Homo sapiens: one gene and its partners. The protein of the gene in region 3 interacts with the protein of the main gene of each other region in a biochemical or structural test. Each region holds a gene or a part of one and is shown on either strand. Other genes may lie near its edges.

Region 1 (3,653 bases), on a different chromosome or scaffold from region 3:
GGGATCACAGGCGTGAGCCACCGCACCCCGCTGGGAACAGCAGCCTCTTAAATGGCCTTCCCCAAACCACTGCATCAGGGCTGGAATAGGATGCAGCTTGTAAAAAGAACCAGGCAGGGCCAGGTGCGGCGGCTTCCGCCTGTAATTCTAGCGCTTTGGGAGGCCAAGGCGGGAGGATCGCTTGAGCCCAGGACTTCAAGACTAGCCTGGGCAACATAAGTTGACCCCCATCTCTCAAACAAACAGAAATTCATAATTTTAAAAAAAGTATTTAGCCTTCTGTTTTTGCCGTGAAGCCTTGGAGGTCTGGTGTGTATTTCATGTCGCAGTTTTTCTCGGGACTGGCCACACCTCACGGGTTTGACAGCTCTGGGTGGCCAGTGTCTGCTGTTCTGACGGCACTGCTTCAGGTAGTGGTCTGGAACATTCTCAGAGATACATGAAGTGCAAGATGAAGGCCCAGAATGTAGCAATTTTTGTTTGTTTGTTTGAGACGGTGTCTGGCTCTGTTGCCGAGACTGGAGTGCAGTGGTGCCATCTTGGCTCACTGCAATCTTCGCCTCCCGGGTTCAAGTGATTCTCCTGCTTCAGCCTTCCAAGTAGCTGGAATTACAGGCGCCCACCAACGTGCTCAGCTAATTTTTGTATTTTTAGTAGAGACGGGGTTTTGCCATGTTGGCCAGGCTGGTCTTGAACTCCTGACCTCAAATGATCTGCCCGCCTCTGCCTCCCAAAGTGCTGGGATTACAGGTGTGAGCCACTGTGCCTGGCCCCAGCCCACACTTTTTTTTTGAGACGGAGTCTTGCAGTGTCGCCCGGGCTGGAGTGCAATGCCGCAATCTCAGCTCACTGCAACCTCCGTCTCCCAGGTTCAAGCGATTCTCCTTGCCTCAGCCTCCCGAGTAGCTGGGATTATAGATGCCTGCCAGCACGCCCGGCTAATGTTTTTGTATTTTTAGTAGAGACGTGGCTTTCACTATGTTGGTCAGGCTAGTCTTGAACTCCTGACATCGTGATCTGCACGCTTTTGCCTCCCAAAGTGCTGGGATTACAGGCGTGAGCCACTGTGCCCGGCTTCCCAGCCCGCATTTTTAAACATCATGAACTCTATCAGTAGAAATTGTCGGTGTGTAGGCCACGCTTGGGTCGTGTCTGGGTTGTGGCAGGCACTTAGGAAGTGGGTTGGGAGTGACACCTGAGACCATCACTGAGGAGGGCTTGCTGTGCCCCCACCTGCGCTGGGGGCTGGGGAAGTTACAGAGAAGCGAAGAGGGTGGGCTCAGCTCTTGGGGAGTTTCTTTCCCGGCTGGGGAGATGAGGCACGTTTCACATTCCGTAGAGGAACTGAGAGCCTGCCAGTGGCCTTGCCTCTAAGGAGCAAGTCTGTGGCCAGTGAGACCGGGGGCTGTCTGGAGGTGGGCGGCTGTGGTCTGCTGTTGCTGTAGGAGGACTCAGTGGCAGAACCTGAAATCTGGTTGGCAATAGCAAAACAGGGAAAGGCGTGGTTTACAGAACCAGGTTGTCCAGGTGTGCAGCGGCCGCAGGTGTGACTGGGTGCTGGTGCATATGGTGCCCTGTGTCCCCGGGGCCGAAGTCCACTCCAGCATGGAGGAGGCGCCCTGGCAGAGTGAATGACGGGGCTTATGTGCCACCCGCAGTGCCTGGTGGCTCCCCTCTCCTGGCCTGGTCTGTTCTTAGGCAGGCTTCTTAGGTAGCCTTCTACGTGGTGGCCCCTGCCGCGAGCCTGGATCCAAGCCCAGCAGAGGGAGAGAGAGATCCTCTCTTCCCAGCAGGCGTTCAGAGCCCTGTGGACTGGACCGGTCTCTTTGGGCTGGAAGGCGTGGTTTTCTGCTTGCCCAGGTCCAGTCGTGTCCCCTTCCACCCCTTTCCTGGGCCACTGAGTCCCACAGACTGAGAGTGAGCGGCAAAGGCTGCCCTGGGACAGCTGGGTCTGTTAGCAGGAGACAGCGTGGAGCCGGGAGGTAGGCACGCAGGAACCCGGTACCCAGCAGCAGCTGTCTGCTTCCTGTTAGAGCACCTGGGCTCTGGAGCCTGCAGCACCTGGTTTGAAGGTTTGAATCCTCCCGCCACTGACTGACTGCATGACCTTGGGCTAGTTGCTTTCCTTTTCTCAGCCTTGGTTTCTTTAAAATGCGGATACTGGCCAGATGTAGCGGCTCCACCTGTACTGCCAACACTTGGGGTGGGGGAGTGGGAGGATCTCTTGAGGCCAGGAGTTCCAAAGCAGCCTGGGCAATACGGCAAGACCCTGTCTCTACAAAAAATAAATAAATCAGGTGTGGTAGTGTGTTCCTGTAGTCCCACCTACTTGGGAGGGATCACTTGAGCCCAGGAGTTCGAGACCAGCGTGGGCAACATAGTGAGACCTCATCCTTACAAAAAGAAAAAAAAATTAATTGGGTGTGGTGGTATGTGCCTGTAGTCCCAGCTGCTTGAGAGGCTGAGGCAGGAGGATTGCCCGAGCCCAGGAGGTCAAGGCTGCAGTGAGCCATGACTGAACCACTGCATTCCAGCCTGAGCAACAGGGCCAGACCCTGTCTCAAGACAAAACAAAACAAAAACAAAAAAAGCGGATCTGGCACTTGCCTTGCACTTTTTATTTTTTTGAGGCAGGATCTTGCTACGTTGCCCAGGCTGGAGTACAGTGGCACAATCTCAGTTCACTGCAACCTCTGCCTCCCAGGTTCAAGCGATTCTCCTGCCTCAGCCTCCCAAGTAGCTGGGATTACAGGCACCCGCCACCACACCCAGCTAATTTTTTGTATTTTTGGTAGAGACAGGGTTTCACCATGTTGGCCAGGCTGCTCTTGAACTCCTCAGCTCAAGTTATCTGCCCTCCTCGAACTCCCAAAGTGCTGGGATTACAGGCGTGAGCCACCGCGCCTGGCCCCCTCAGTTCCCTCTTGATATGCATTGAACTGTTCATTCTTTCACTTTTCAAAAATACGCCGGTGCCATGGTGTTAACGTGTGGCTCTGCACTCCCCTCCACACACCTGCTGGGCATAGCCCTGGGAGGGGTGGGAACGCCGCGTCTGATGGTGTGGGGCGCTAAGGAATTGCTCTCTGAGAAGGCGCAGAGTCTGCACCCCCGCAGTGGCCAGCTCATGTCCTTCAAGTGCCTGGTGCAGGGCCGCGCCCAAGAGGAGCAAGTGGAGGTGACGGGGAGCCAGCCACCCCCACTTACTCCCTCCGCCTCCTCCACCCCCACTCACTCCCTCCCCCTCCTCCAGCGGCCAGTTTGCGATCGTGCGGAAGTGCCGGCAGAAGGGCACGGGCAAGGAGTACGCAGCCAAGTTCATCAAGAAGCGCCGCCTGTCATCCAGCCGGCGTGGGGTGAGCCGGGAGGAGATCGAGCGGGAGGTGAACATCCTGCGGGAGATCCGGCACCCCAACATCATCACCCTGCACGACATCTTCGAGAACAAGACGGACGTGGTCCTCATCCTGGAGCTGGTCTCTGGCGGGGAGCTCTTTGACTTCCTGGCGGAGAAGGAGTCGCTGACGGAGGACGAGGCCACCCAGTTCCTCAAGCAGATCCTGGACGGCGTTCACTACCTGCACTCTAAGCGCATCGCACACTTTGACCTGAAGGTGAGCCCTGTAGGGCCCTGTGGGGCCGGCCTGGCCAGT
Region 2 (3,653 bases), on a different chromosome or scaffold from region 3:
ATTCAACCTAGCTTTAAAAATAGGTTTTGGCTTTGCTTGGGACCAGCATTGGGACCAGAGTGTATCTAGACCAGCATTTTAGCTATTAAATTTTAAACCTAGGGGTCTTTTAAGGGAAATTTAATCCATGTGTCTTTGATTCACTAAATCTTAAATCATTACTCACAAACTGTATGTCCCTCTAAGCTCTTTGATGTCCAAGAGATCTCTAAAATTGTGTAAGGCCTTTTTGTTCCAGAAAAAAATAGGAAGTTGGTTTTTGCTAAGCGTCAATAAACAGCATCCTCAAAAATCTGATTAGGTCTAAAATCTTGCAACCATGACAGTATGGATGTTTGAATGATGCAATGTGAAAATTTTAAGCACTTTTTAAAGTCCTTGTTTACCAGTAATACTCAGTTGTAATCCTTACTAACCCCAAGGAAATTATTTTGACACATTTCCTCTCTGTTTTGTAATATAAATACAAAGCCCAAATATTCATCATTTTATTCTGGCACATAGTAGGTACTCAGTAAGTATTTTGTAGAGTGTTGAATGACTCTTTCTTCTGCCCAGAAACTTCTAGCTAATGTCAGTTCTTCTATTCAATATTGATATCCATCTGTCATACCTTGGAATAAGATCTATTCTAAGTCAGTGACCTTGTTCGACAAATTTTTAAAATAAGCCATCTAACTAAATATATGACATTTATTGAAATTCATTTTGCACCATGAAGCAACTGCCTTGCAAAGAGTGCTGAAAATAGGAAGGAATTTCTAGACTAATTTGATTAAATATTCAGTTGTTGCCATATGCTTTCTGAAAATTGATTTTCCCCCTTTTACTATTCCTGTCATCCTTCCTCCCACCTTGACATGCTTACTGATTGAAAGCTATGCACAGAAAAAGGGCAGGTCGCTTGTATGTATAAGCAAGAGCAGCAAGTCCAAACAGGCTTAGAAAACGTAATGCTATAATCACGAGTTGTCATAATATAGGAGAGGGGAGAGAGGAATACTCAGCAATAAGAGTGGTGTTGGGTATTGCTCCAAATTACATGGATGACACATCTTTGAACTCTATTGTGTCGGGGGAAAACACCTTCTTGCTGTAGTTAGATTTCCTGTTTGTGAATGTGTATTTTCTGGTAACCAGACTTCCTATATGAATTTGACATAGCTTTAAGTGCATTTCAAATGACATGATTAAAGAATGGCTGCTTTGGAGACAGCAGCTCCTTCTCTCTTAAAGAAATAAACTATCATGCTAAAATATAGGCATTGAGATCTTTCTTGATACCATATTGTGAATTTCTAATGGCTCATCACATTTTTATCCTCAGAAAACCTTTCCTGGTGAAAAGCATGCTGTTTTAGTATCACATTTGGGGTGATGGAATTGGCAATTTCTTATATCTTGAGGGGGCGGGGGGGTAAAAGGAAAATTGTGTTAATAGGGTCTTAAAATAGAGATTCTCTTAGGTTAACCTGAAGATTTACTAAATACATTATCATTACAGCTTGTTTTGACATTTAATTGTAGATGGCACTGTATCAGCACTGACTTATTTATACAGCTTTGTTTAGACATGCCTAATTTTTATTTCATTGGTGGAACCAAACCATCAGTAATAAATCATATATCAGTGTTTTTGTACACATTCGTATTTACATGACTTTTAAAATTCCAATGTAAAGGTCTCACAACTTGAAAAATGAATGAATGCCTGAGTATTTGAACAGTTGGGAAAATGTAGTTCAATTTAAGAAAGATTTTTTATGACAATTCTTATGCCATATATAGAAAATAGATAATAAAGGAGAAGGCCTGGAGGTTTAGATGGGATATTGGATCAATGAGCAAAGGAAGGGGAAAGGTGGGCGGGATATGCTGAAGGGTCATGGGCTTGAGTGCACCCTAAGTCATAAAGAGGGTGTCCCATTAAGAATCAGGCTGCCTGAATTCTAAGTAGGAAAGAGGCAGGTCAAAATGGTGTATAGGCCAGGCACAGTGGCTCACGCTTGTAATCCCAGCACTTTAGGAGGCCAAGGTGGGTGGATGGCTTGAGCTCAGGAGTTTGAGACCAGCCTGGGCAACATAGCAAAACCCCCCTCTTAAAAAAATTACAAAAAGTAGCTGGACATGGTGGCGCACACTTGCAGTCCCAGCTACTCAGGAGGCTGAGGTGGGAGGATCACCTGAGCCTGGGAGGCCAAGGCTGTAGTGAGCCGAGATCATACCACTGCACTCCAGCATGGGTGACAAAGAGAGACCCTGTCTCAGAAAAAGTGGGGGAGGGAGGGTATGGAATAAAGTAAAGCTCATGGGAAAATGGTACCTTTACCATTTTCCCACCTTGGGAAATGGTGGGAAAATTTAGACATTGCTTTACAAAGTCTAAATTTCTGCCAACTTGTGTTACATGTGGTTTGATTCTGGAGAAAGATAGACTATCATCTATCCAGTCCTAAATTGGGCCTCTTAGTCTGTCCTCCCCTCAGTTACCAGGAAGAATAGCAGGAATATGTCACAGAAGCAGAGAAAGCTTTTATTCTGAGTGTCAGAGGCATGTTCTAAGCACTCTGTTATCTACTCCCAGGCACTCTAAATGAAATTCCATTTTCTCTGAGGAAATCAAAATATAAAAAGAAAACTCAGGCAAATTTATAAAGGTTTTACACCATTTTCATGACTGAAATATTCTAGCATATCTAGCTCATTATAATCTATAAATTCCTGTTGGGACCAAAAGTTATGGCCCTAAAACCTGTTATCTGTAATCCTTTTCCACTGGGATATTGTCTCTGGGGATATATATTAGCTTTCCTTGAGGATACTACCTTGAAACCATTTCTTTGGTCCTTGACTATACAAAGTTCATACTAGCATGGATGTAGGAATTGTATTTTTCTATTCTAAATACGAATTTAGACAGTGATATAAAGATTCAAGGAAAGCTTCTATCAAGGCCTGCCTTCACTACTTGTCTTTTGGCTCCTCTGAGGGTCTTAGGTGAGCCACTTTCATCTGATTCTGCCCTCACTTCAGGCAGAATTCATATGGCTCCAGCCAATGGCTACACTGTCCAAAGTGAGACTGTGGTCTCACAACCATCTGGTTAATACAAAGACAGCAAGCCAATATGATCACTTAGGACCTAGGCAAACCTTTGGGCTTAAAATATTACCTTAGCTATTGTTGTTTTTAATGAGTATCAAATAGTATGATATTTGTAATTTGTATTATGTAAAGAAGTAACCAAAGCAGAGATTGTTGACAAAAAAAAAAACTTCCTCCTAACATAAATGAATATGCATTTTGGACTTTTCAAAAATTCCCTTTCTGTCTTGTCAAAATTAAGATATTTCTAAATTTTATTTCGGTCTCACTAACACATACTTGGATTATTGTTCATTGAAATCTGTACGTCAAGGCCCAGTGATTTTAAACATTCTTTTGGTCTTCAAAGAACTTACCAAAAAAAAATTGTTCTTTAAATCACCAGAAAAGTGCAGATAAAATCCCAGACAGTTTCATTAATGACAATGAAAGGTGACAGCCCTTGAATCTATGTCATAAGTTGATTAATTACTTTCCAAACATTATTAAAGATATTAGACGAATAACTTAGACTGGTATCCAGGATCAAGGTTCCTTCATAATCCCTA
Region 3 (3,653 bases):
TCTGAATGTTATCAACATTGCTTTTCTATGTGAAAGAAATTGATCTGAAAATGACCTTTTGAGTTTGTCAGACTCTGCTTTACTTCCATTTTTTTGTCCACCAATGGTAAACTATTAATTTTCTATCTACCACCTGCCATTCAGTAGAAGACATTTGCTATAGTCCTGTGTTTTCCGTTAATCTAGTTAATGTAGCAAATGAAAACGTTCCTTATTTGTAGTGTCGTCTTCTTATGTATGTCAAGTAAATAGGGAACACAGGATCTTGTTTTATTTCCTGGCCTGCTATACTAGAGGGAGAAAAATAGGACAGCTGATTATTTTTTTCTTAATATAATGGTATTTTTATGTTGCCAGGGAGTTGAGATTACAGAACCTACCTTGGCATGTAAACGGAGAGATATTATAAGGATAAAGCTATTATGATTGAGGAAGCTTACTCTGTGGTTTGGGCAGGTGGATGCTTTTCATTAATGTCAGCAAAGCACAAGTATATCTGACTGGTCTACAGACCTGCACAGAAGATCACGGGGTGAGAAGGGCAAACTAAGGTGTGACAGCAAATAGAGATTACAGAGACAGCATCTGTGTGGAAAGAGCAGCTGTCAGTTATAAAGGCTCCTGTAACAAATGAAAGATTGCATGCCAGATCTTTAGAAATATAGATGAACCATAATAAGATTGTAGGCCACTACAGCATAGTTTGAAGAGAAAATTACAAATGCTAATAAAGTGGGATATGTTGAAGCAGTGATAAAGGAGTCCTATAGTTATCTGTGGATAAGGTTTTGTTTGAAGCCTACATTTGACTATAGTCTATGCAACCAAGCCAGGTATAGCTGAATCTACATAAAGAGAGATAAAATGCTTTTAAGCCAGGGGGCCCCAGATGCAGGCTGGCTAGTAGTTTACTATTATAACACCACTTTGGGTTTTGCTCTTCTATTAATTAGTAGAAAATAACTGTTATTTTCCATGGGTGTTTTAAAATTTTTCTTTTGGAGAATTTTAATTCCTTCTTGATGTTGTATGAACTTATGAACTGAGTGGGATTCTTGACTAGAGATTTTGACAATGGTCTTTCTTAGGATTCATGACTTGTTGTGGGGTGGCATATTTGTTAAAAGATGGTTGTAAAGTAGAGCCCCAAACAAACAAAAAAGAAAAAGAAGATCGGGTTTTGCATATTTTACTTTCAACTCAAAGAATATAAATACAAGAAGTAGTTAGCAAAAACAATGACTTTATCATTTGTTTAAACTAAGTTTCTTTAAAGTTGCCTTCTATCAGTTCTTATTCAGGCTTATTTTTGCAGCCCTCATGTGGCCAAGTGTATTCTCACAAGATGAAAATGTATTCATATGTTAAATCATGGAAATTTTAAGGTTATGGAATTATCAGGATTATTCTTTCACTAAATTTTATTTTCTAAGTAAGATGAAAGTTGATGTGATAAACTTTTAAAATACATATTCTAGTTTGCTCCATTATAAAACTCATTAAAAATAATGAGTATTATTTCTCAAGAGATATATGTCAATCTAAGTTATAACTTTTGGGTATCTTGAATCTTAAAAACTAGTTGCTTCATAAGTAGATGGATTTGACATTTAATTGATGACTGACGGATCTCAAAGCTTAATGGAGACATCAATTCAGAAACAATGTATCTTTTTAACCAGAGGAAGAGCTATTCCTTTCTAAATGGAAGTTTTCCCATTTTACTAGAGAACGTGAAAAGATAAGTTTGTTTTAGAAGAAAGACATACTTTAAAAGCTTTTAATCTGTTTATTCAACTCTTCAATTACCTTAACAAATTACTATTTAGCTTTTTTAACAAAAATATTTTTAGCACCTTTATATCTTGAATATGTATTTTCACTTTAAATATTCTGCTAGCCCCTTCAGGCACCACCTTCTAGAATGGAAATGTACTGCCAGAAAAACACTGAGAGAAAAACACTGAAATTGAAAAACACTTTCAATTTATTTGAAAGATAACTTTCAAAGAAATTTTCATAACTCAAATGTGTTTCTTTTTTCCAGAGAAGTATATCAGAGAATTCCCTGGTAGCAATGGACTTCTCAGGCCAGAAAAGCAGAGTTATAGAAAATCCCACTGAAGCCCTTTCAGTTGCGGTTGAAGAAGGACTCGCTTGGAGGGTACAAGTAGCTTCACATGCTTCAAAATATTTATGATTTCAGTTTGTTTCACCTAAAAACTTGAGATTTGTTTTCTCCTTCCTTGCTCAGAAAAAAGGATGTTTACGCCTGGGCACTCACGGTAGCCCCACTGCCTCTTCACAGAGCTCTGCCACAAACATGGGTATGTCTGTTCATAGTCATTGCCACTGAGTAGACGGATAGACATGGAAAGGACATGTAATGAAATTGCAGTCATCTCAAACAAAGCTTTGCATTCATCCATCCTATTTCTTTAGCTATCCACCGGTCCCAGCCATGGTTTCACCACAAAATTTCTAGAGATGAGGCTCAGCGATTGATTATTCAGCAAGGACTTGTGGATGGGTAAGTTTGGTATTTTTAATTTTGAGTACTTGTGAATTGGATTTCTCCTATAAGCAGAAATTATTTATTCCATAGCCACAAAGAGTTCTTGATTTGGGCTTATCATAAAACAGAAGTGACATTGTTCTATAAATGAGGTCATCACTGTATTCTAACAGTATCTATATTATACCTGGTACATAGTGTGTGTCTGGTATTTGTATATAAATGGACAAATAACGGAATAGAGTATCTTGTTCTTAACCAGTGATCACTAATATTACCCATTATGTCCTGATTCTAGCATCTCAGATATCAATTGATGGGGGAAAATGAACTTCTTTTTAAGTGTCAATATTTTGATTTGAACATATGATTTCGAAGTATGGTTTATATTATGACATTATGTCAAATGTATTTTTTTAGGTATGATGCAACATGTATTAAGTAAAAAGCTGTTTCTTAAGTGTTTTGAACACTTATTTTTTTGTGTGTTTACATCCCTATTGTCCTTTCTCTAAATTTTAACATCTTAAAGTAATATAGATCCGTGAAAAGAGTACCTTTCAACTGTTTCTCATGTTGTCTTTTAGTGGGGTACCATGGAATACAAAAGAGAAATATAAAATGTATTATGAAAGATTTATAATGTGAAGAATTTTATTTTTCTCAAATTACTCAGTGTTTCAGATACTTTCTATAATACTGGCTGAATTCCCTTTCCAAATGCAGTACAAATGAGGGAGGTTGTATTGTGGTTTAGATGAGTAATGAAATCATTATCAATTTAAACAAGTGGTGATGGGATCTTTTATCTTCAAAAGTTGGCTAATCATGTCATTATCATGACAAGATTTCAAGGTGATTTAATACTGAAATTTGGATAACAATGCTTCTTCACATGGAAGATTATTAATAGGAAGTCAGCATTTCCCCAGACTGTAAATAAGATATTTTAATACGTTTCTTTGCATGGAATGCAGTCTTTTTGGAAATAAATTTGAACAATCAGTAGAATTACAATCTGATGAAACCAAGAAAATAAATGAGTCACAAAGAATTATTAAAATGTTTTGAAAGATTGTAATTTTCTTTATTTCTGAGCCCAGTATTTATAAAGTGAATGAAATGATCGTATAAAAAA

The links.
Region 1: the proteins of GRB14 (region 3) and DAPK3 form a complex in vitro, tested with the Homo sapiens proteins (one study listed by BioGRID).
Region 2: the proteins of GRB14 (region 3) and MET form a complex in vitro, tested with the Homo sapiens proteins (one large-scale study listed by BioGRID and IntAct).

The regions. Positions count from the first base shown.
Region 1 is NC_000019.10:3,964,592-3,968,244, reverse strand, and holds part of DAPK3 (death-associated protein kinase 3), read left to right. Parts: intron 1-3,253; coding exon 3,254-3,614; intron 3,615-3,653. UniProt on the Homo sapiens protein: Serine/threonine kinase which is involved in the regulation of apoptosis, autophagy, transcription, translation and actin cytoskeleton reorganization. Involved in the regulation of smooth muscle contraction.
Region 2 is NC_000007.14:116,678,676-116,682,328, forward strand, and holds part of MET (hepatocyte growth factor receptor isoform b preproprotein), read left to right. Parts: intron 1-3,653. UniProt on the Homo sapiens protein: Receptor tyrosine kinase that transduces signals from the extracellular matrix into the cytoplasm by binding to hepatocyte growth factor/HGF ligand. Regulates many physiological processes including proliferation, scattering, morphogenesis and survival.
Region 3 is NC_000002.12:164,495,885-164,499,537, reverse strand, and holds part of GRB14 (growth factor receptor-bound protein 14), read left to right. Parts: intron 1-2,047; coding exon 2,048-2,164; intron 2,165-2,254; coding exon 2,255-2,327; intron 2,328-2,442; coding exon 2,443-2,530; intron 2,531-3,653. UniProt on the Homo sapiens protein: Adapter protein which modulates coupling of cell surface receptor kinases with specific signaling pathways. Binds to, and suppresses signals from, the activated insulin receptor (INSR). Potent inhibitor of insulin-stimulated MAPK3 phosphorylation.